Linked DNA regions of Homo sapiens: region 2 is linked to region 1. Evidence: fine-mapped QTL for protein levels in blood plasma. A gene starts in region 1. The other region holds a variant in brackets. All regions are shown on one strand. Distances are between the middles of the regions.

Region 1 (10,748 bases):
AAGAGTTCTGGACCCTGAAGCAAATTCATGGTTAAGGATCCCTGCTGGGGACATCCTTTGATCTGTGAATCATTGTTAACAGCAGGGAGCAGAACAAAGGTACAGGAAAGAGGACCTGGGCCAAGGAAGGGCTGCTAGGGCTTCATCCCTGGGTCAGGAAGCCAGGATTTGGCTCTTGGGTTTCTCGTCCATTCTGGGGAGCACTGAGAGGCAGGTAGGGCAGCAGGGTTGGAGCTAGAGGTCTGAGGGTCTTGTGGCAGGAAGAGCTGAGGTGACCCAAGAGTGTCATAGACACTCCAAACTCACTCCAGGGCTATCAGACAGGAAAGATAGCAAAGGAGGGTAAGAAGAAGTTTTGGCCGGGCGCAGTGACTCACACCTGTAATCCCAGCACTTAGGGAAGCCGAGTTGGGCGGATCACTTGAAGTCAGGAGTTCGAGACCAGCCTGCCCAATATGGCGAAACCCATCTCTACTAAAAATACAAAAATTAGCTGGGCATGGTGTCCCATGCCTGTAGTCCCAGCTACTTGGGAGGCTGAGGCAGGAGAATCGCTTGAACTTGGGAGGCAGAGGTTGCAGTGAGCCAAGATTGCACCACTGCACACCAGCCTGGGTGACAGAGCAAGACTCCATCTCAAAAATAAATAAATAAAACGTTTCACTAATCTCCACTTGGTATAGGCACCATCCTAATTGTATACTATATCACATTTAGTCCGCATCATAACCAACTGGAGTAGGTACTAATATCCCCTCTTTAACGTGGGAGGAAGCAGAGACTCATCGGTGTCAGGAGGAGGCTGTCATTGGCTCTATTTCACACAGCTAGCTAACAACAGAGCCAAGATGTCAAGATCAGGGGCCTGGGAAGGGTGGAAACTGCAAGCCCACTTCCTCCCAAGGTATGGGTCCTGCTCTGTGTCCTCCCCGGTTGCCATCAACAGCCCTTTCACACGTTCCACTCTGTTATTTGCAGGAAATAAGAGAGAAGTTTCAGGTGAGTGGTGACAACCAGATCCCCAACCCCTCTGCCTTCATCCCTGATGGCCTTGGCCAGTGCCCCCCACCCCCTCCCTGCCCCCAGTCACCACACAAAGTCTTGGGTTTAAAAGTCACTTTGGTCTCCTGCTTCCCAGAGTTATCATAAGAATTAAGTAAGAAAATGAGTCCAAAGTTCCAGGCTTACTGTAAGCAAATGATGAATCGTGACATGATTTCTCACCACTTTGTTTTTAATAAGTGGGTTATTTGGAGGAAGTAATTTAAAATTCCAAATAGAAGACATATAATATGATTTTTTTTAATTTTAAAGCTGAGCATTAATGAATCCTCTTCTTTCCTCGTCTATAAAATGGAAGTCAGAATAACACCCCTCACAAAGGTTTGTGCTATTTGACTTTGATGAGAATTCATGAAAAGTCTATGACATTCTCCTGCAGAATATCATCACATATAAATAACTCCTAATATGGATCATACTCTTTTGATTTGCACACACGATGTGCAGGTGAGAGAAACTGTTCACACTCAGGAAAGGGTGGAAAGTTTACATTCAAGTCAAGGACATTTGTGTTGTACATGAGAAAGAAATTTCTAGTTGAAAGTAGCTAAGATCCTGTGTTTGTACAGCAGTAATTGAGTCCCCTCGGGACATTATGGGGTCTTTTCCCTTCACAGACATGAAAAGAGATATACAGGACACTCTGTCTCAGGGGGCTGCTAGAGAGGAACCTGGCTGAAGGCATAAATCAGAGTTTAAGTGCATAGCATTCAAACTCTGCAAAAAGCATCAGAATCACAATTTGTAGTCTCCTTTTAAATCTTTTCTACAAGATTGTATAGTAGAAAAATAATAACCAACAAATGATTAGAGTACGCTGTCAACTCTTTACACCATGGTGTGCTCTATAACTTTATTAAGAACGATGTGTGGGCCGGGCATGGTGGCTCACACCTGTAATCCCAGCACTTTGGGAGGCTGAGGCGGGTGGATCACAAGGTCAGGAGTTTGAGACCAGCCTGGCCAACATGGTGAAACCCCGTCTCTACTAAAAATACAAAAAATAGCTGGGCATGGTGGCAGGTGCCTATAATCCCAGCTACTCAGGAGGCTGAGGCAGGAGAATTGCTTGAATCCAGAAGGCAGAGGTTGCAGTGAGCTGAGATCGTGCCACTGCACTCCAGCCTGGGCGACAGAGCAAGACTCTGTCTCGAAAAAACAAAAAAAGAATGATGTGTGGACTGTGTCAATATGTGGAAATGCATGTAGGAAATAATATTAAGAAAAGCAGGACAGGAAACACAGGGCATGCAGCGATAACTTCATAAAAACCACAATGCTCAGAAGATAATCTGAAATCAATATTGATCAGGTTTTATTTTCTCTCCAGTGGCCTAACACGATTACATGCACTTTTTAATGGCATGGATAGGTGGAACGTGGGATTTTTAGCATAGTGAAACCCTCTGTATGATACTGTAATGGTGGATACATTTGTCAAAACCCATCAAATATACAGAACCAAGAATGGAACCCTCATGTACACTGTGTACTTTGGTTGATTACAAAGTGTCACTACAAGTTCATTGATTGTAACAAACATAGCCCTCCGGCAGGGATGCTGATGGTGAAGAGTATGAATACATAGGGGCCAAGGGTATATGGGAACGCTGTACTTTCCACTCGATTTTGCTGTGACTCCTAAAACGGTTAAAAATAAAAAAGTCTGTTTTAAAAATGTTTAAGCTCCATTAGGATGTTAATTGGAAATGCACTAAATGTATATATTTTTATCACATTTTTCTCGATAAACATAGTATCTTTCCATTTGTTCGGAAAAATGAAAGATCTTTTTTTAAAAAGTCATGATAGTGAGGGTGGCTCTGAGATCCCCAGTTCAGGAGAGGGCAATGTTCCCTTTTCCACTGGATAAGAAACTAGGCCCTGAGCCTCCCTCCCTGGATAATGCTAGAACCTTCTTAGACTCTCTAGCCTAAGCCTTGATGATACCATCAGTCAGATGGAAGCCAGATGTTCTGATAAGGGGGCCCATAGCAACTGTGACAGGAAAAGGGAGACAAGCTGATGGCTCTGGTCAGAAATGGCCCCTGTCCAGGCTCAACTTTGTTCACACTCAGCCCCCTGATGAAAAAGCAGGATGTCCCATCCCAAGCTGTAACACGCACATTTTTCAAGAGCAATAAAATACCAGGCTAAAAATCCAACTGATTTTTTAAAGTAATAAATTTCTGGCCGGGCGCGGTGACTCATGCCTGTAATCCCAGCACTTTGGGAGGCCAAGGCGGGTGGATCACGAGGTCAGGAGATCGAGACCATCCTGGCTAACACGGTGAAATCCCGTCTGTACTAAAAATCCAAAAAATTAGCCGGGCGTGGTGGCGGGCGCCTGTAGTCCCAGCTACTCGGGAGGCTGAGGCAGGAGAATGGCATGAACCCGGGAGGCAGAGCTTGCAGTGAGCTGAGATCGCGCCCCTGCACTCCAGCCTGGGCGACAGAGCGAGACTCCATCTCAAAAAAAAAAAAAAAAAAAGTAATAAATTTTCTCGGGGATTTGCATAAAGGAAAGGGTGTTTACCCATTAAAATGTAATCAACACAAGGCACACAAACCCTGCCAGATCCCATCTTCTTGCCGCAGGCGTACAGTCTAAGGTCTCTGTGGCTGAAGGCAGCGACGCTCCAGACCAGTGAACAAGACCTCTCTTCTCTAAAGCCTCCCTGAGTGTGCCCTGATGAAGGACTTGCCAGGGCATGACGGGCAAAATGCTCTCAGGGACAGATGTCTGAGTCTCCAGGTAGGAGCAATACTGGCATCTGAAAAGGGCCTGAGGTCTTCCATTATAATGAGGTGGCCCAGCCTGCTCTGGAAGGTCCTGGATCACATGGTCAACAAGATTCTTGAGGGCAGGGACTGTGTCTCAGATTCTCTCTCCCATAGCCCAGTGCCAGGTACACAGGGCTACAGAGATGTCATTATTGAGCACCTTCTGCATACAAAGCACCATGCTGGGCATAAGGTGGACGCAAAGAGGGGCCAGGTTCAGCCTACAAAGACCGTGAGTGAAGGCGGTGACATGGAGCTCTGTGCCATGTCAAAGGAGGAGACGAGCCCTGGCTTCAGAACACCAGGCTTCTAATCTGAGCGGCACCACTTACAGCTGGCCTAGGTTCTTTTGTAGCCTCTGGTTTCAAACACAAATGCTGTGAAATAATTATAGCAAGAGGCAGAGGGTGAAAGGCACCTGAAGAGCTACCATAAAGGCAATCCCAGGGCTTCTCCCCAGCTACCCAACCTTAATTCATGGTGCCACAGCCTACGCAAGCCAGAACCAGGAGTTGCCCTTGACCGCTCCTGCTCACTTGCCCCAGTCCAAAGAAACATCAAATCCTACTCCCCCGTGTTGCTGAATTCCAACCCCTCTCCACACCCCTACTGCCACCACCACCACCCCACTCATCAGCACTACTTGTCATGGCCACAATCCATTTCCTGAGCACAATATTTTTAAAATACAAGTCTGATCATGTCACCCCTTATATAACACCTTTCGATGACTGCCCATTGATCTTAGGAAAACAAAACAAAACCAAGCCCAGTGCTAATATTGCCTCCAAGGCCCTGCGTTTCTTGGGCCCTGCCAAACTGTACTGCATGATTTCAAGCAACTCTTCACCCCCGTCATGCCCTAGCTACCTGGTGATGTTTCTGGGAAGCCCACCAGACTCAGGTCCTGTACACAAGCTGTTTCCTTTGCCTGGAACATTGTCTTTGCTGGTCAATGCTGATTCATCTTTTAAGATTAGGCTACACCTGGAAAAGCCTTCCAAGAAGGCCTCCTGGTCTAGGCTAGACTCTCCTCTAATTCTCCATTATAACAATTATAATTAAAATATTTTGTTTTGCCATGATTTTATAGCCTGCTTCTCTTGCATGTTCCATCTCAGGGTAAATAATTGTTGCATCTGCCTTGTTCCACTGCTGTGCCCACAGCATCTAGTGCAGTGACTCACTCTTCACGTGCTAGATGACTGAATGAACGAGTGAATGCATGAGTCTGGGGGTGGGGAGCAGGGAAGGCCTCATGGAGGAACTAGCATGGAGGAAAAGAGGTTATGTTTGGGACTTTTTTCTGTTTGTTTGTTTTGAGACAGAGTCTTGCTCTATTGCCCAGGCTAGAGTGCAGTGGCATGATCTTGGCTCACTACAACCTCCGTCACCTAGGTTTAAGCAGTCCTCCTGCCTCAGCCTCTTGAGTAGCTGGGACTACAGGCACACGCCACCATGCCCAGTTAATTTTTGTATTTTTATTAGAAACGGAGTTTCACCATATTGGCCAGGCTGGTCTCGTACTCCTGACCTCCTGATCTGCCTGCCTCGGCCTCCCAAAGTTCTGGGATTACAGGCGTGAGCCATCGTGCCCAGCTATGTTTGGGACTTTCAAGAGTCAATGGGCAACATGGAGCTCTGTGCCGTGTCAAAGGAGGAGACAAGCCCTGGCTTCAGAATGCCAGGCTTCTAATCTGAGCAGCACCACTTACAGCTGGCCTAGGTTCTTTTGTAGCCTCTGGTTTCAAACACAAATACTGTGAAATAATTATAGCAAGAGGCAGAGGGTAAAAGGCACCTGAAGAGCTACCATAATCAATGGACTAATCAATGGACTGAGATCTGCCTTGGCTTGCAGCTCTGATCATCCAGGCTTCCTTTTCCTTCCTGAAAGTCATGGATCCAGCCCACCTCCATGACAACTTCCCTTCTGCCTGGTTTTTCTGCCCGAAAAGAATAGCTTCTCCATGCCTATCCCAGCCATCTCCACTTCTCTTCCCTTTCCACTCAGTATCCCCACCAGCTGTCTCTCCAATCCACTTTCCCACCACACCCTTGATGGATGGAACTGCATAATTGTGTGATGGCGGAAAGCTAATTTGTACTTCTGTGCTGGCAATGAAGTGTCTGGAGCTTTGCAATTGACATTGAGAAGCAGAGGGGATCCCTCACTCCATCCCTGGTTCTCCCTCAAACTCAAATCGCAAATCCTCCACTCTATCTGCAAAGGCCCAGAGACAAAGGGGCTGTAACCTAACCCAAACCAAACAGCCACTCACAGAAAGTCATGGGAAGAAAAAAATCTTTCCAGTCTTGCAAAGACAAGCACCTGGTGGTTCTCTCCCTGTCTCTCGGTAAAGGTCATTGGTTCAGTTTCCCTTTCCACCTCCTGCAGGGTCTTGTCAGCACCTGTTTTCTTGGGCACAGATTGGGAGATGGTTTGGTGTTTCTCTTCCTCCCAAATTAAGGCACACTCAGACCAAAAAGCAAAGGGAAAGTGCCTCCCGAGGTTTTGCTGCTATCCATTTCTCAGTTTCGGAGGTCTCAAGACACAGAAAACTTAGACACCTAAAGAGGATAGAGAGGAAGAAATATTTCTTTTTTATGTATTTATTTTTTTCTTTGAGACCAACTCGCTCTGTTACCCAGGCTGGAATGCAGTGGCACGATCTCAGCTCACTGCAGCCTCTGCCTCCTGGGTTCAAGCGATTCTCGTGCCTCAGTCGCCGGAGTAGCTGGGATTACAGGCGCCCACCACCACACCCGGCTAATTTTTGTATTTTAGTAGAGACGGGTTTTGCCATGTTGGCCAGGCTGGTCTCGAACTACTGACCTCAGGTGATCCACCCGCCTCGGCATCCCAAAGTGTTGGGATTACAGGTGTGAGCCACCGCGCCCAGCCAAAAAAATGTTTCTGAAAGAATATGTGTACATGCACGCGTATACATGTGGCAGGGGGTGAGAGGGAGAGACTTGTATAATCAGAGATTTAGTATGTGATACAATGGGAAAGAATAAACAGAATTAAAGGATAACAGCCACCATTTATTGGATCTGTACTATATGCCAAACATGTTGCGAAATATTTTATGCACAATGTTTCATTTAATTTTCAAAGCAACCCAGTGAGGGAGAAACGTATGCGCCCATTTTACAGTTGAAGAAACAGGCTCACTGACGCACAGCTCATGACTGGGGCCGAGCTCCAGGACTGAGATCCTGATGCCCATTTTCTGAACCACTACTGGCTACTGCTTTCCAAGGGCTAGAGATGAGAAAAAAAAGGAAATTGGTTTATGGTGTGGCAGAGGTCTTGCGATGAGACATGAAGAACTCTCTGACAATGAGGGCTGTTTGGTTGTAGTCGGAGTAATTAGGCTTGTTAGAGCTCTTCCTCTGACGGCCTTTACATTTAAGATGAATGGATGCTTCTATGCCCGGATGGTTTGAGGGAAACGCTGTCTGTTCCCAGCACGGGGCTGGCCTGTTTGAACTAGCTGACGGCTTCACTGGGGATACAGGATTGCCACACGCGAAACCGTTAGATAACAGGAGAAGATAGCGCAGGATGTGAGCCCCGAGTGGGACTGGCAGAAAGTGAGGGCTACCGACAGGCAGAGGCTACTGTGGTTCAAAGCAAGGGCTTTGTGGTCAGGCGGGCAGACTTGTGTTTGAGTCCCGGCTGGCTCTACTGCTTTTGTGACCTTGGGTATGTTGCCTAACCTCTCTAAGCTTTGGTTTCCTAGTCAGTAAAAAGAGCCTAAGAATAGAACCTACTTTGGAGGGATGCCATGAAAATTAAATAAGATGATCCATGTAAAATGCTTGGCACAGAACCTGGACATAATCAAAATACAATGGGGGAGGAGCTGCTATAATAATGACTATTGTTGGAGTCCAGAGGCCGGAGACAGTGGCACAGAACAGAGGGCTAGGTCGGTGGGGAGTCGAGAAAGTCTTCCTGGGAAACCTGAGTTTTGTCCTGGAGCTTGAAGAGGTGGTCAGGTGAAATCAATAGCAAGGCATAGAGATGTAGGTAGGCAGGGCTTATGTAATGGAGTGAGATTTCAAATGCCCTATCACTTTCAAAGAAAAATCTGGTTTGATCTGTGGTTGAAGTAGAGAAGGAAGTTGACTATGGGGAAGAGGTGGGAAAGAGATGAGGTCTTCCATCCTTGTTTCCAAACCCAAAATGTGAACAGAGACAAACCTCAGGGACCTAAACAAGAAATCTGACATCCAGGGCTTCTTTGCCCACTTCTGGGCTGTTGTGGGAGGAGAAGGGGTAAGAGCCTGGGAAATGGCTGAGGGCAGAGCTGGTGGCGGATGGGGACAGGACCTGAAACAAGGGAAGTTAGGAAATGTGGGCGAGGCCCTTAATGACTGTGTGGGCTGACTCATGTGGGAGACCTAGCTTCAAGGCCGCATGGAGATCCAGCATCCTGTCAGGCGGGAGGCCAATTTCAAGACCCTGGGCATCTCTAGTCTAAACGGTTGCCAGCTAAGAGTGGGAGTCCTTAGGGGAGCAATCCTTGTGCTAATCCAATTATTCCCTAACAGCCTGCCTTATCTCCCGGATGTGAAGATGAACTCCTTAGGAGCCAGGTTCTCCAGGAAGGATGCTGCTTGTTTCAGATGCTCTATGTTTTTGTTTTGTTTTGTTTTGTTTTGTTTTGTAGAGACGGAGTCTTCCTCTGTCACCCAGGCTGGAGTGCAGTGGCGCAATTTTGGCTCGCTGCAACTTCTGCCTCCTGGGTTCAAGCAATTCTCCTACCCCAGCCTCCCGAGTAGCTGGGATTACAGGCGCACGCCGCCACACCCAGCTAATTTCTTTTGTATTTTAGTAGAGACGGGATTTCACCTTGTTGCCCAGGTTGGTCTCGAACTCCTGAGCTCAGGCAATCCGCCCGCCTCGGCCTCCCAAAGTGCTAGGATTACAGGCATGAGCCACCGCGTCTGGCCCAGACGCTCTATGCTTAAACATCTGCCAAATACCTGCTGTCAACCACTTATGTCGAGCATCATGTGGGCCTTGTCAAAAATGCTAATCCTCAGTTCTTTTCCCTAGAATCTGATTCCATGGGTTTAGGGATTCGGGAATCTATTTTCTAACAAGCATCCAGGTGATTCTTCAGGAAAGGCAAATTTGGAAAAGGCTGACTTGGTAGTCTCTTAAATTCCCTTCAGTCCTAAATCTAGGCAGCAGAGAGCGGGTAGCGGGAAGGGCCCCTGGATGATAGCAAGAGGCCGATTCTAGCCGGACCCTGCAGTTCACATGGCCCTGTGCTGGGGAAGCCCTAGAAGGGAAGGAGGCTGCAGAGAAGGGAGTTTTCACCCATCAGTAATCAAGGTCCCAACAGAAGTGAAAATGGAAGTCAGGGAACAATTGGTTTTGAGCATCTTCGTGGGGCTTTTTCCCTTGCCTGGGACTGGCAGGACAGTGTAGGTCTGAGCAGCTTCCACGATACACACGGGGACACTTAAGCCCAAAGAATTTTTAAAACGTGCCTAAATTCCACAACTAATCAGAGGAGGCAGCAATCCAGATCTCCTGGTCTTCACCCTTCTTATTGTTGGGGTGCACCGCAGGGCACGCATGTTTCCTTGTGGCTTGTGGGAAAGCCACTGTCGTGGAGCGCCAGCGTCCCGAGTCCCTGGAAATTCTCCCAAGTGACCTGGAATCCAACATTTCCCTGGATTTTCATAGTCTATAATAGAGAGAAAGAACCGGGTCTGCGGTGGTGGGCAGGACTGAGGAAAGGCCGTGAATGCGGGAAGCACGGGAGGCAGGACTGAAAAGGAAAGAGGCACAGGGGCTCACAAAACCTGAGGGCCGCGTCCCAGTGGGTGACCTGACCCATCAAGGTCTAACACCTGGCCGTGGCAAAGCTGGGCGAGAACCCCCGATCCACCCTCCCAGTGTGGGGCAGGGAAAAGGCAGAGTGCAAAGCGAGGTCTGATTTTGCAGAAGCTTTTTAGAAATTCGCTGTCAGAGAAACTGAAAGACCAAACAAAACCCCTAAAAATCCAAGCCCGATTATTTCATCCACGTGGCACAAAAGCAAGCCAAAAAAAAAAAAGCGGGGGGGGGGGGTGGCGGTGCAGGGCGGGGGAAGAGTCACCCGTCCTGCCCCTGCTGGAAGGAAGGGATTTGCCCCGGGAGAGCAAACTTCTGACTCCGCCTGGGTCGCTGACTCCGCGCGGCCGGGCGGGAGGGAGGTCGAGGAGGCCGCTCGCACAAAGCCGCGGAGCCGCTGCCCCCTCTCCCCGCCCCCTGCCCGGCCAACGCCGAAGTGCGGAGAGCAGCCGCGGGCCCTTTAAGGGCCGCGAGGTGCGCGGTCTCTTTAAGGCGGGTCCTGGTGGTTTCTGTTTTCTGAAGGAAGTGACGGGGGGTGGGATTGAATGAAAAGTGCAAAACACAGGCTCGCAGCGCTGGAGCCCGGGGCCGCGGAGCCGGGCCGGGGCAGCGCCGTCTCCGCCTCGGGGCCGCCGGGGGCGCCCTGCTGAGCGCTACCCACGTGCGTCCGCGCCACCTCGCGGGCGACCCCGCGGCCAAGGCCCCCGGCGGAGCGGCTCCCGGGCGCCCCGAACTAGCCCCCAACTTTGGGCGAAGTTTGCCTGCGCCTCTCCCCGCCCCCACGCGGCGCGCCGGGGCCGCGGACGGCAGCGGCCCCCGGGGATGCGCCTTCCCGGGGTACCCCTGGCGCGCCCTGCGCTGCTGCTGCTGCTGCCGCTGCTCGCGCCGCTGCTGGGAACGGGTGCGCCGGCCGAGCTGCGGGTCCGCGTGCGGCTGCCGGACGGCCAGGTGACCGAGGAGAGCCTGCAGGCGGACAGCGACGCGGACAGCATCAGCCTCGAGCTGCGCAAGCCCGACGGCACCCTCGTCTCCTTCACCGCCG
Region 2 (10,316 bases), 19 kb after region 1:
TCCAAACCACAGGTCCCTCATGTCACCCCAGGCTCAAACCCACCAGTGACTTCCAGAGAGGCACAAGAGGAAGCCTCCCACTCCTCAGCCTGGTTCAGACCCTGCGTCCTGCTTGTGTCCTGACCCCTTGCCAGCCTCATCAGCACTCACGACCCTTCCCCTCCTCCCCTAGTACATTCCCACCGCTTTTCTCAGAGAACTCTTCCATGCTGTTGTTCATTCACCCTTCATGTATTCCTTATCAGATGTTTATTGAGCACCTGCTGTGTTCCAGGGGGCAGGGATGCACTTCAAGCAAGCCACTTTTCCTGGCTCAAGAAGTTGAGTCTGGAAAGAAAGACAAGTAAAGAGGTCAGCAAAAACACAGTGGGAGTAAACAGTGGGATTTGTGCTCTAGAGGCAGCGACTGGGATTGGCCAACTCTGCAGAAGGGCTGGTGAGGGCAGCACTGGGAGGGCAGTCAGAGGAGGGTCGTTTGTGAGCTGTGCCCTGCACACAAGGCACAGCTGAGACAGCTGAGCACAGGGCATCCCGGCAGAAGAACCTGCTCACAGAAAGGCCTAGGGGTGACACAGCATCGCTCATTCTGGGAACTACAAGCTCTCCGGTTCAGTGCATGGGAAGTGCAACAGTTGCTGTGAGCAGGGACCTGGGATGCCAGGCTCTGGGGTTAGGCTTTCTGGTGAGGACAAAGGGAGCCCTTGAAGGGCATTCGGCCACTCGGGTGATAGTAGCATGGAGGGATGATTGGGTGGGGGCACTGGGAGACTCATGCCTGGCTGTCTTCTGTAAATGCCTCATTGCTGGAAAGCCCTCCATCCTTTAACTGTCAAGGGCCAATGAGGAGTCCCTCACTGTGCGAAGTCTTCCCTCCCTCATGCCACCCCCAGCCCCAACCTTAAGGGGACAACGAGCACTCCCTCATCCACCCTTTACCTCCATTGCACTTGGAGTAAACCTCAATCCTAGGCCTATTGTTTGCTGACTTGAGTTGTCAGAAGTCAGCCTCCTCCACCATCCCCTGGAAAACAGGAATCTGTGTCTTGGCCAAGGCCACTCCCCTGCCCAGGTGTTTGTGAAGGCCCTGCCCCATGTCCTGCTAATCAGTGCTCTCCCACTGATTGGCTGATTACTTGCAAGCCCCAGAGGAGTCACCTGACCTGTCTAGGCCATAGGTACATCTAGAAGAGAACAATCTCAACTCCTGGGTCTTCAGGAGTGGAGTAGATTTCAGGTGGAGCAAGGCAGACATAGAGCCAGGAATTGCAGCCACAAGAGAGAAACTGAAAGTTCAGCCCACTGTGTTCTGAAACCTTTCACTCATTTATTCCCTGCAACAGTCCCTTGAGGTAGATACTATCATTTTATTCAGCTTGCCAATGTGGAAACTATGGTACAGAGAGGTTAAGTAAATCCCTTCAAGGTTATGTGGCCAGCAGAGGCAAAGCCAGGATCTGAACATGGGTAACACTGGCTCCAGAGCCTTTGTTCTTAAATTCTGTGCTATCCTAGAGCCTACCTACTCCTTACTTAAAACTACAGACGAGGACCCTAGCAAACACTATTTCCCCAGGGTACTTGCCACACCCTCTGCGTGGCCCAGATCCTGGCCCTGGATGTAGTATGCTCCAGTTCTTCCAGGTAGGCTGGAGATTCCTGGAAGCTTGTGGGAGAAGGAGCCTTATAACAACCTCCCGTCTTGGGGACCCTATCCTGGGTCCTGAGCCTCAGGAGCCTGCCTGCAGTCCCTGTTGTAGGCTCTTCCCCAGCTAAGCATCTGCTTTAGGTGTTAGGCCACATGAAGTACGTCATCCCAACAGATTCCTGGGCAAGGAGGAAGGCTGGGAGTCAGGCTTCCATCTGGCCTGGGCTTAGCATCTGAGGGGACTTTCACCCTTCCCTGTGAAGGTTGGAAGAAGAGGGGGCCCCAGAACCTTGCCAGGGAGTCTGAGGTGCAAGGAGTGGAAAGCGGGAGGGACACTGGTCAGGATGATGGAGTCCTGTTACCAAATAGACCCAGAAAGTAGGGCTGCCCACTCCTTCTCAGGGATCAGCAAGTGGAATGTGCTTTTCTGGGGAAATAGGACGAAAGGGCCGGGCGCAGTGGCTCACACCTGTAATCCCAGCACTTTGGGAGGCCAAGGCAGGCGGATCACCTGAGGTCAGGAGTTCGATACCAGCCTGGGCAACCTGGTGAAACCCAGTCTTTACAAAATACAAAAATTAGCCGGGCATGGTGGCACATGCCTGTAATCCCAGCTACTCCAGAGGCTGAGGCCGGAGAATTGCTTGAGCCTGGGAGGCGGAAGTTGCAGTGAGCCGAGATTGCACCACTGCACTCCAGCCTGGGTGACGGAATAAGACTCGGTCTCCAAAAGAAAAAAAAAAAAACAACCATGCACACAAAGGAGAGACCGGAGAATTTGTAGTTTAAAAAGTCCTGGCAGAGGCCGGGTGCAGTGGCTCACGCCTGTAATCCCAACACTTTGGGAGGCCGAGGCAGGCAGATCACAAGCTTAGGAGATCAAGACCATCCTGGCCAACATGGAGAAACCCTGTCTCTACTAAAAATACAAAAATTAGCTGGGTGTGGTGGCCCATGCCTGTAGTCCCAGCTACTCAGGAGGCTGAGGCAGGAGAATCGCTTGAACCCGGTAGGTGGAGGTTGCAGTGAGCCGAGATCGCGCCATTGCACTCCACCCTGGTGACAGAGTGAGACTCTGTCTCAAAAAACAAAACAAAACAAAAAACAAAAAAAGAAGTCCTGGCAGGGCAGGCAGGCGGGTTAGAAGGGTATTCCTGCCTCCTCTTCTCTTATTTGTGTCATGCTGTTTGGTAGTTGCAGGAACCACGAGCCAGAGCCGCCACATTCGAAGGCAGGTGTGCTGACTTAAGGCAGGCTGCCGCCAGATGGGCATGATGGGGAGCGGGTCCTAATCCCACCTCTGCTGCTGGCCAGCTCAGGCATCAAGGGCAGACCGCACAACCTCTGTGTGCCCGAGTTCCAGCTTCTTTAGCTGAGCATCAAGGAGATGAGACTAGCTGATCCAGGAGGCAATTATGGATTCTGGTTAAGAGAGCTCAGGCTTTGAAGTCAGACTGTCTGGATTAAGATCCTGGCTATGTTTCCTCTTAGTCCATGACGTTGAACAGGTTACCTAATCCAAGCTCGGTAACAATCATAGCTCCTACCGCCTGTTGTAAGGATTTTAAAAAGGATCATACATCCTTTTGACCCATGGAAACAATGTTTTTTCTCTTCTAGTTACAAATTTCAGTAACTCTTTTTCCTATACAAATAGGAGATACAGAGGAAATCCTCTCAGTGAGAAATTATCATTCCCTTCCTGCACCCCCTGTCAGTTCCCATTTTGACAGCATTTTGTTATTGTCATTGATGACATTATTAATATAGAAGCAGGAAAAAAGCTCAAATAGATTTCTTTCATCCTCTAGTCTGGTCTGAAAGTTCAAATACCTTCTTTTGCCAACGGTAGTCAGGTGATGTCACCAAGCAAAGAGACCCCTGAGCAGCCCTGAGACTTCCGGATATTTCCTGCACCTGCGGTATTGGAGAAGATGCTGTGAATATCCAGATAGGCTTCTCTCCAAAGAGTCAGAGCTGAAAATACCAGGGAAGTGGTTTTTGGATCCTTCCTGGGGGATCCTGCCAGGGACATGGCCTGGCTCAAGCTCTAGCAGGGGAAGTCTGGTATCAAGTCTCACCTGGCAGGAATTGAGCCCAGAATGGAATATGCTACAGGCAGAGCAGCCTCCCATCTCTCCTCAGCCGACCTGAGTGAGGGGAAGATCAGATAGCCCAGGCTGGCAGGACAAGGAGATTGCAGCACCATGACCAAGAAGGGATTTCCTGTTGAGAGGAAGCAGGGGTTGGCTGAGCTCTGATCACCTTCTTCACAAATCTCTGGGATCATAAGGAACCTAATGGAACCTTCCTCAACAGCTGAGCCTCAGTTTCCCTTTCTGGAAAACCTCCCCCTATACTTCCATACCTCATCGTTCCAGAGATGATTTACAATAATGGCAAGTAAGAGAAACTCTGTAGAGTTAAAGGACTGCAGAAATACATGGGCATTTATGAGATGACATGCACTCGTTTGTTGCAGACCACCTACGATGCTTGCTGGTCACCTACAAGAGTAATCCCAGCTAGCGCTGACCCCATGTGAGAATCTTCAGATAACTTACTTAGTCCTCACCACAACCCTGTCACATAACTGGGATCATCCCCATTTTACACATCAGAGAAATTAGGGGAAAGCCTGGAGGACTCACTAATACATTGCAGCTTCGGGGCGGAGCTGTGAGTCCCTTGCCGCATGTATTGGACTCCAAGGGGGCCACTCAGAGCCTGTTGCTGAGACACTTCTGTTCTCGCGGGTGTACAGCAAGTACTCAGTGACTGTGTGGTGGGGGGAGCTGGGGCCCGGGCATTAATAGATGATCCACAGAGCTGTCATTCTAAGTCTCAGTGCAGAGCCATAGGGGTTCCCAGCAGAGAATGGTCACTGAGGTCAGGGTGCCTCCACCACAGGAGGGGCCTTGACAGATGTAGACCACTTCTGACTGGGACCCACTAACTTCTCACTGGGAGCAGAGTTAATCAAGTCACAGAGATGGGTAAGAAGGCAAGGGGCCACTTCTCATGTGGTGAGCGGTACAGGTGAGCAGAGCACAGGGCTCCAGCAGCCGGATAGGGAAGGGGGCCCCAGCCCACCCTACAGCTCTACTCCCTCCATCCTGCTGCAGACCCCCCATTCACACAGTGAGTCAGTAACAGGAAGGAGCCCTTGGACTGCGGCAATGCCATTAGCGACCCCATGGGGGAAAGGGGAAGTGGGGAGGGAAAGGAAGAGGCGAGGCATCCTAGCTCCCTCAGGCCGGAAGGCTGCAACAGCTGCAGCCAGCCTCCCACTCTGCCCTCACCCCGTCCCGGCCCCACCACTCCACTCACTCAGTGGTCGGTGGCCAGGAGCCTGGCCAATCAGAAGCACCAAGGGCATCTTGAGACCTCTCCCCAGATCTACTGAATAAGAATGTCTAAGATTTCTAGCCATTACAACTACAAAGAAAAAAAAAAAAGAGGAACTCTGGAATCGGTACTGGAAAAGTCCAGCCCTCCTCCATGATGCCCTGATCAGGTGCCTGTAGAGGCCCTGACCCACCCTGATCAGGGTGACGTTAAGGGGTTCTGCCGAGAGGAATCATCAGCTGGGAAAAACTCTAGTGGTTCACTTTGTCAGTTTTCCAGGATCTTTGGAACATCTGGGGTGTGTTCTTTCTTTCAAGTCACGGGTTTAAACGGAAAAGATAAAAATTCCTAGACCAGCAGGAGGGAGGTGTCTGTTGCCCGGCAGTGTCCAGGCATCCTGTTCAGGGGCCAAGCTGAGCACCCGGTGGGCCAGTGGGAAGGTCCCACACCCTCCAGCCGTTCCCATCCTCCTGCCCTTCTTCAGGATGTGAAGGTCTTCCGGGCCCTGATCCTGGGGGAGCTGGAGAAGGGGCAGAGTCAGTTCCAGGCCCTCTGCTTTGTCACCCAGCTGCAGCACAATGAGATCATCCCCAGTGAGGCCATGGCCAAGCTCCGGCAGGTAAGTGCCCCACCAGGCCTGCCTGGCCCAGGTCCTGACCCGCAGCAGACCCGGCCCAGATCCCATCCCGCAGACCCGGCCCAGATCCTGACCTGCAGACCCGACCCCTGCAGCCAGCCTAGCTCTAAGCTCTGATTCCCCAACCTTAGCCTCCCACCCAGCTCCTCATCTTCACGCTGTTCCTGGACCCACTGCCCTTGACCTGCCCTCATCCCTGGTACCCCATTCACCCTAGAGTCCTGAGCCCCTGATTTTGCCCCAGGCCAAACCTGACCCTAGAGCTGCAGATCACTAACTGAACCCCAACTCTCAGATTTCTCCCATCTGGTTCCAGCACCTCCCCGTGTGTGACAGGCTAGGGGCTTGGGCTCTGAGGTCAGATCAGACATCACATCTCCTCCGTCACTCATTAGTTGGGTGACATTGGACAAGTTACCTTCAAAGCCACAATTTTCTCACTGAAACTGGGTTATGGGGGAATTCAGTGAGCAAACATATGTGAAGTGTTCAAGACCCTCAAAGCTGCCGGCCTGCTCCTGCTGTCTTCTTAGACCCAGGGCCTTGCCCCAGCCTCATCTGAGTTCCCTGGCCTGCCCAGCAGAGCCTGCCCTGGGGGCCTCCTCGCCCCTGCGCTTTGCCTGCTTTCCCAAAGGGACTTGGTTCCCTGGATGTTGGAAAGTACGTGATTCCAGAGGTCATATGCCCTGGCACAGCTTGCCTGGCCCACCCACCTCCACCTCCCATCCACACCTCAGCATTCTCCATCAAGCCCCAGAGGTCAGCCCAGTGGCCAGCACATAGTTTGGGAAGCATCCATTCTGGATAGAGGCTGAAAAGGCTCGACTGTACTCTAGGCATCAGCTTCACTGCCAGTTGGAGAGGGGTGGGGCTGCCACCCTGCAGATGGCCCCAGCGTTCTAAAGGCAGTCAGCTTGGGCTCGCCTGACTCTGGAGGGTCAGGGGAAGATGGACAGGGAGCATTCTGAAGCCAGGTAGGAGTGACTTCTCTCCCACACACAGAAAAATCCCCGGGCAGTGCGGCAGGCGGAGGAGGTTCGGGGTCTGGAGCATCTGCACATGGATGTCGCTGTCAACTTCAGCCAGGGGGCCCTGCTGAGCCCCCATCTCCACAACGTGTGTGCCGAGGCCGTGGATGCCATCTACACCCGCCAGGAGGATGTCCGGTTCTGGCTGGAGCAAGGTCAGCTGGGAGCTGGGCACTGCCCGCTGCTGGGCGGAGGGAAGGGGACAGGGAGACAGCACAGAGCAGTGGAGGAGGGCAGGGGCATCATTAGTTGAGTCTCATCATTAGCCAAGTCTCATCATTAGCCTTTCCTTTGTTCAGGAGACATTTACTGAACACCTACAGAGATGTACTGGCGCAGGAATCAGAGATGTAGACACTCAGTTCCTGTCCCCCAGCAGGGTAGATCTGCACAGAGTTAAGTGTGATAGAATACCATGATAGCTACAGGCGTTCAGGGAGGGACCCCCAAACCAGGCTACAGTTGGTCTGGGAAGGCTTCCTGGAGGAAATGGAGCCTGTGTGATTATTCAGCGAGAAGATTCAGCCAGAGGAAAGGGCCCTGCTCCAGGCAGGGCACACAGACTCTGCTAGGCCCTGTGGAGGGAGATTCCCAGGTACTTCCCCTTGTCCCTGCCCTTAGTGAGGACACAGAGATGGGGCCTTCTGTCATGGGTGTGGGGCACAAGGACACCCTGCCCCCCTCCACTGACACCTCTCAGATATCAGCTTCAGGCCCTCCCTGGTGCCAGCATCTCTGCCCCAAGATCCTTGGAAGCTCCTCTCCATACTGCATGGTC[C/T]CTGCCTTCCTGACCTCTGTGACTTCAGCGCTGACCCCTCTCTGGGTACCTTTTCCAGGACCGCCCTCAGGTCCCCTGTGTGGAGGGGAGAGGGAAATGGCGCCATTCCAACTCTGAGCCCCTGTGCCTTCTGCCAGCCAACTGAGCACTGGTGAAATGCCTGCTCCTCCCAGGGCAGGCCCAGATTTAGAAATACCCAACCAAGCTGTGGTCTTGCCCCCCACACACATACACCCTCCCCCATGGCCTGCACCCCAGACTATGCCGCAAGCTTGACATAAGTGTCCTCCAGAAGCTGGCCCCTCCCATACAGCCCCTGAGCCTAATCAGGCCGGTACCTTCCGTCTCCTCCAGCGCCCCAATATGCACACTTTCCCATTTGATCCAAGCCCTGGCCACCCTGACCTGACCTGCCCCACTGTGGGTGTGCTTTGCTGGCCCTTCTCTGCCTAGCCCTACTCAGATGTCACTTTTTTTTTTTTGAGATAAAGTCTCACTGTTGTCCCCCAGGCTGGAGTGCAATGGCACGATCTCGGCTCACTGCAACCTCCGCCACCCGGGTTCCAGCAATTCTCCTGCCTCAGCCTCCAGGATAGCTGAGATTATAGGTGCCCGCCACTGTGCCCAGCTAATTTTTGTGCTTTTAGTAGAAACAAGGTTTCACCGTGTTGGCCAGGCTGGTCTCAAACTCCTGGCCTCAGGTGATCCACCTGCCTCAGACTCCTAAAGTGGGATTACAGGCATGAGCCACTGTGCCCGGCCAGATGTCACCTTTTTTAAGAAGCCTTCCTTGACTTCCAACCTTGTCTCCCCACGCCTCTATCTCAGCACACTCCGGTATGGTGATTTTTTAAAGCATTGGGTGGCAGTGTGGTCTAGTGGAGGCCTTGAAACCTTGGCCAGATCATTAAACTCTGGGTCGATGTTCTCATCACTAAAACAGGGATGACGATACTTAGCCCATGGGGTGACTGATGGAGGTACTGTAAGTAGAGCCCGTAGCACACAGTTGATGCCATAGAGGAGGGTGATTCCTATTTAATCTGTTTCTCCCACGAGCCCAGCAAGGAGGAGCCTAGTAACCAGGTCTTACCTCTGTGTCCCATGGCAAGCTTGGAAATGGAGGTGTCTGTAAATGCCTGTGGGATGACAGAGGAGACCAAGTGGGGAATGGCAGCGGCCTCTGACTAGGGGAGCTCCTTCCCTCCCTCCCTCCCTCCCTCCCTGATCCTTGCCTCTCTCCCCCAGGTGTGGACAGTTCTGTGTTCGAGGCTCTGCCCAAGGCCTCAGAGCAGGCGGAGCTGCCTCGCTGCAGGCAGGTGGGGGACCACGGGAAGCCCTGCGTCTGCCGCTATGGCCTGAGCCTGGCCTGGTACCCCTGCATGCTCAAGTACTGCCACAGCCGCGACCGGCCCACGCCCTACAAGTGTGGCATCCGCAGCTGCCAGAAGAGCTACAGCTTCGACTTCTACGTGCCCCAGAGGCAGCTGTGTCTCTGGGATGAGGATCCCTACCCAGGCTAGGGTGGGAGCAACCTGGCGGGTGGCTGCTCTGGGCCCACTGCTCTTCACCAGCCACTAGAGGGGGTGGCAACCCCCACCTGAGGCCTTATTTCCCTCCCTCCCCACTCCCCTGGCCCTAGAGCCTGGGCCCCTCTGGCCCCATCTCACATGACTGTGAAGGGGGTGTGGCATGGCAGGGGGTCTCATGAAGGCACCCCCATTCCCACCCTGTGCCTTCCTTGCGGGCAGAGAGGGAGAGAAGGGCTCCCCAGATCTACACCCCTCCCTCCTGCATCTCCCCTGGAGTGTTCACTTGCAAGCTGCCAAAACATGATGGCCTCTGGTTGTTCTGTTGAACTCCTTGAACGTTTAGACCCTAAAAGGAGTCTATACCTGGACACCCACCTCCCCAGACACAACTCCCTTCCCCATGCACACATCTGGAAGGAGCTGGCCCCTCAGTCCCTTCCTACTCCCCAACAAGGGGCTCACTATCCCCAAAGAAGGAGCTGTTGGGGACCCACGACGCAGCCCCTGTACTGGATTACAGCATATTCTCATCTCTGGCCCCGAGGCTGCCTGTGGGGCGAGTGGAGACCTCCCATCACTGAGACAGATCACAGACCACGAGTGCCTTTCCCGGACCTGGACGTTGCCTCCAGAGCAGGCACCAGCTCTTTCCCTCTCTACACAGAAATATTTTTGTAAGGTTCTGGGGCAGGGAGGGAGCATGAAGTACGAGGAAAACTTGAATTCCAGATTTTTAGTGCAAAGTATTTATCATTTCTACCAGAAATAAACGTTTTAAGTTTTTACTTGACTAATGAGACCCAGAGTTTGGAGAAAACTTTTGGCCAATGCTGCCACCTGATGTCAGAAAGTGTCCCCACACCCTAGCAGTGGCCTATCTTGGAACAAGAACTTCGAAAGCACCTACTGTGTGCTCAGCCATTTGAGGAAGGAAGGAGGAGAAGGAAGATGTTACTAGGGAAGGATGAGATAAAACTTCTGCACCCAAGACAATGAGACAGACATAGCTGCAACCGTAGTAAGCCAGTCAGAAATAGCCAGCGCGAAGGCAAGAGATGGGGTGGAGATTGGAACCCCGCTTCAGATCTGGGCTCGGCTACTTACCTGCTGTGCAGCCATGGGTCAAGTTGCTTGACCTCTCTGTGCCTCCACTCCCTTAGCTATAAAATGAGCTTACTTAAGAGACCGAAGTGAATTCTTGCATGTCAAGCATCTAGCACATAGTGCTGTTAGCCATTCTTAGTATCATTACTATTAGTGAAAAAAGCAGACATTCCTGCAGCTATAAGCCTGACTCAATGAAATCAGACATCTGGAAGGCTCTTCACTTCCAAAGTATCTTTCAACA

The links. A credible set is the group of variants that fine-mapping cannot tell apart. PIP is the posterior inclusion probability: the model's chance that the variant is causal. Protein levels are from the aptamer-based SomaScan assay of Sun 2018.
Region 2: its variant is the best candidate, but not a certain one, in a credible set for the plasma level of the OAF protein (Sun 2018, PIP 0.65).

Annotation. Positions count from the first base shown.
Region 1 is chr11:120,200,752-120,211,499 of GRCh38, forward strand. OAF (out at first homolog) reads left to right here and starts at 10,281. Exons shown (of 4, transcript NM_178507.4): 1 at 10,281-10,748. The coding sequence starts at 10,529. RefSeq lists an enhancer at 9,034-9,575 and silencers at 9,909-10,168, 10,349-10,398, 10,489-10,598.
Region 2 is chr11:120,220,184-120,230,499 of GRCh38, forward strand. OAF (out at first homolog) reads left to right here. Exons shown (of 4, transcript NM_178507.4): 2 at 5,478-5,612; 3 at 6,633-6,813; 4 at 8,685-10,151. The coding sequence ends at 8,959. Among named protein-coding and RNA genes, the nearest start is that of OAF, 14 kb to the left of the region's middle. RefSeq lists an enhancer at 527-1,026. The variant C/T (reference allele first, on the strand shown) is at 7,437.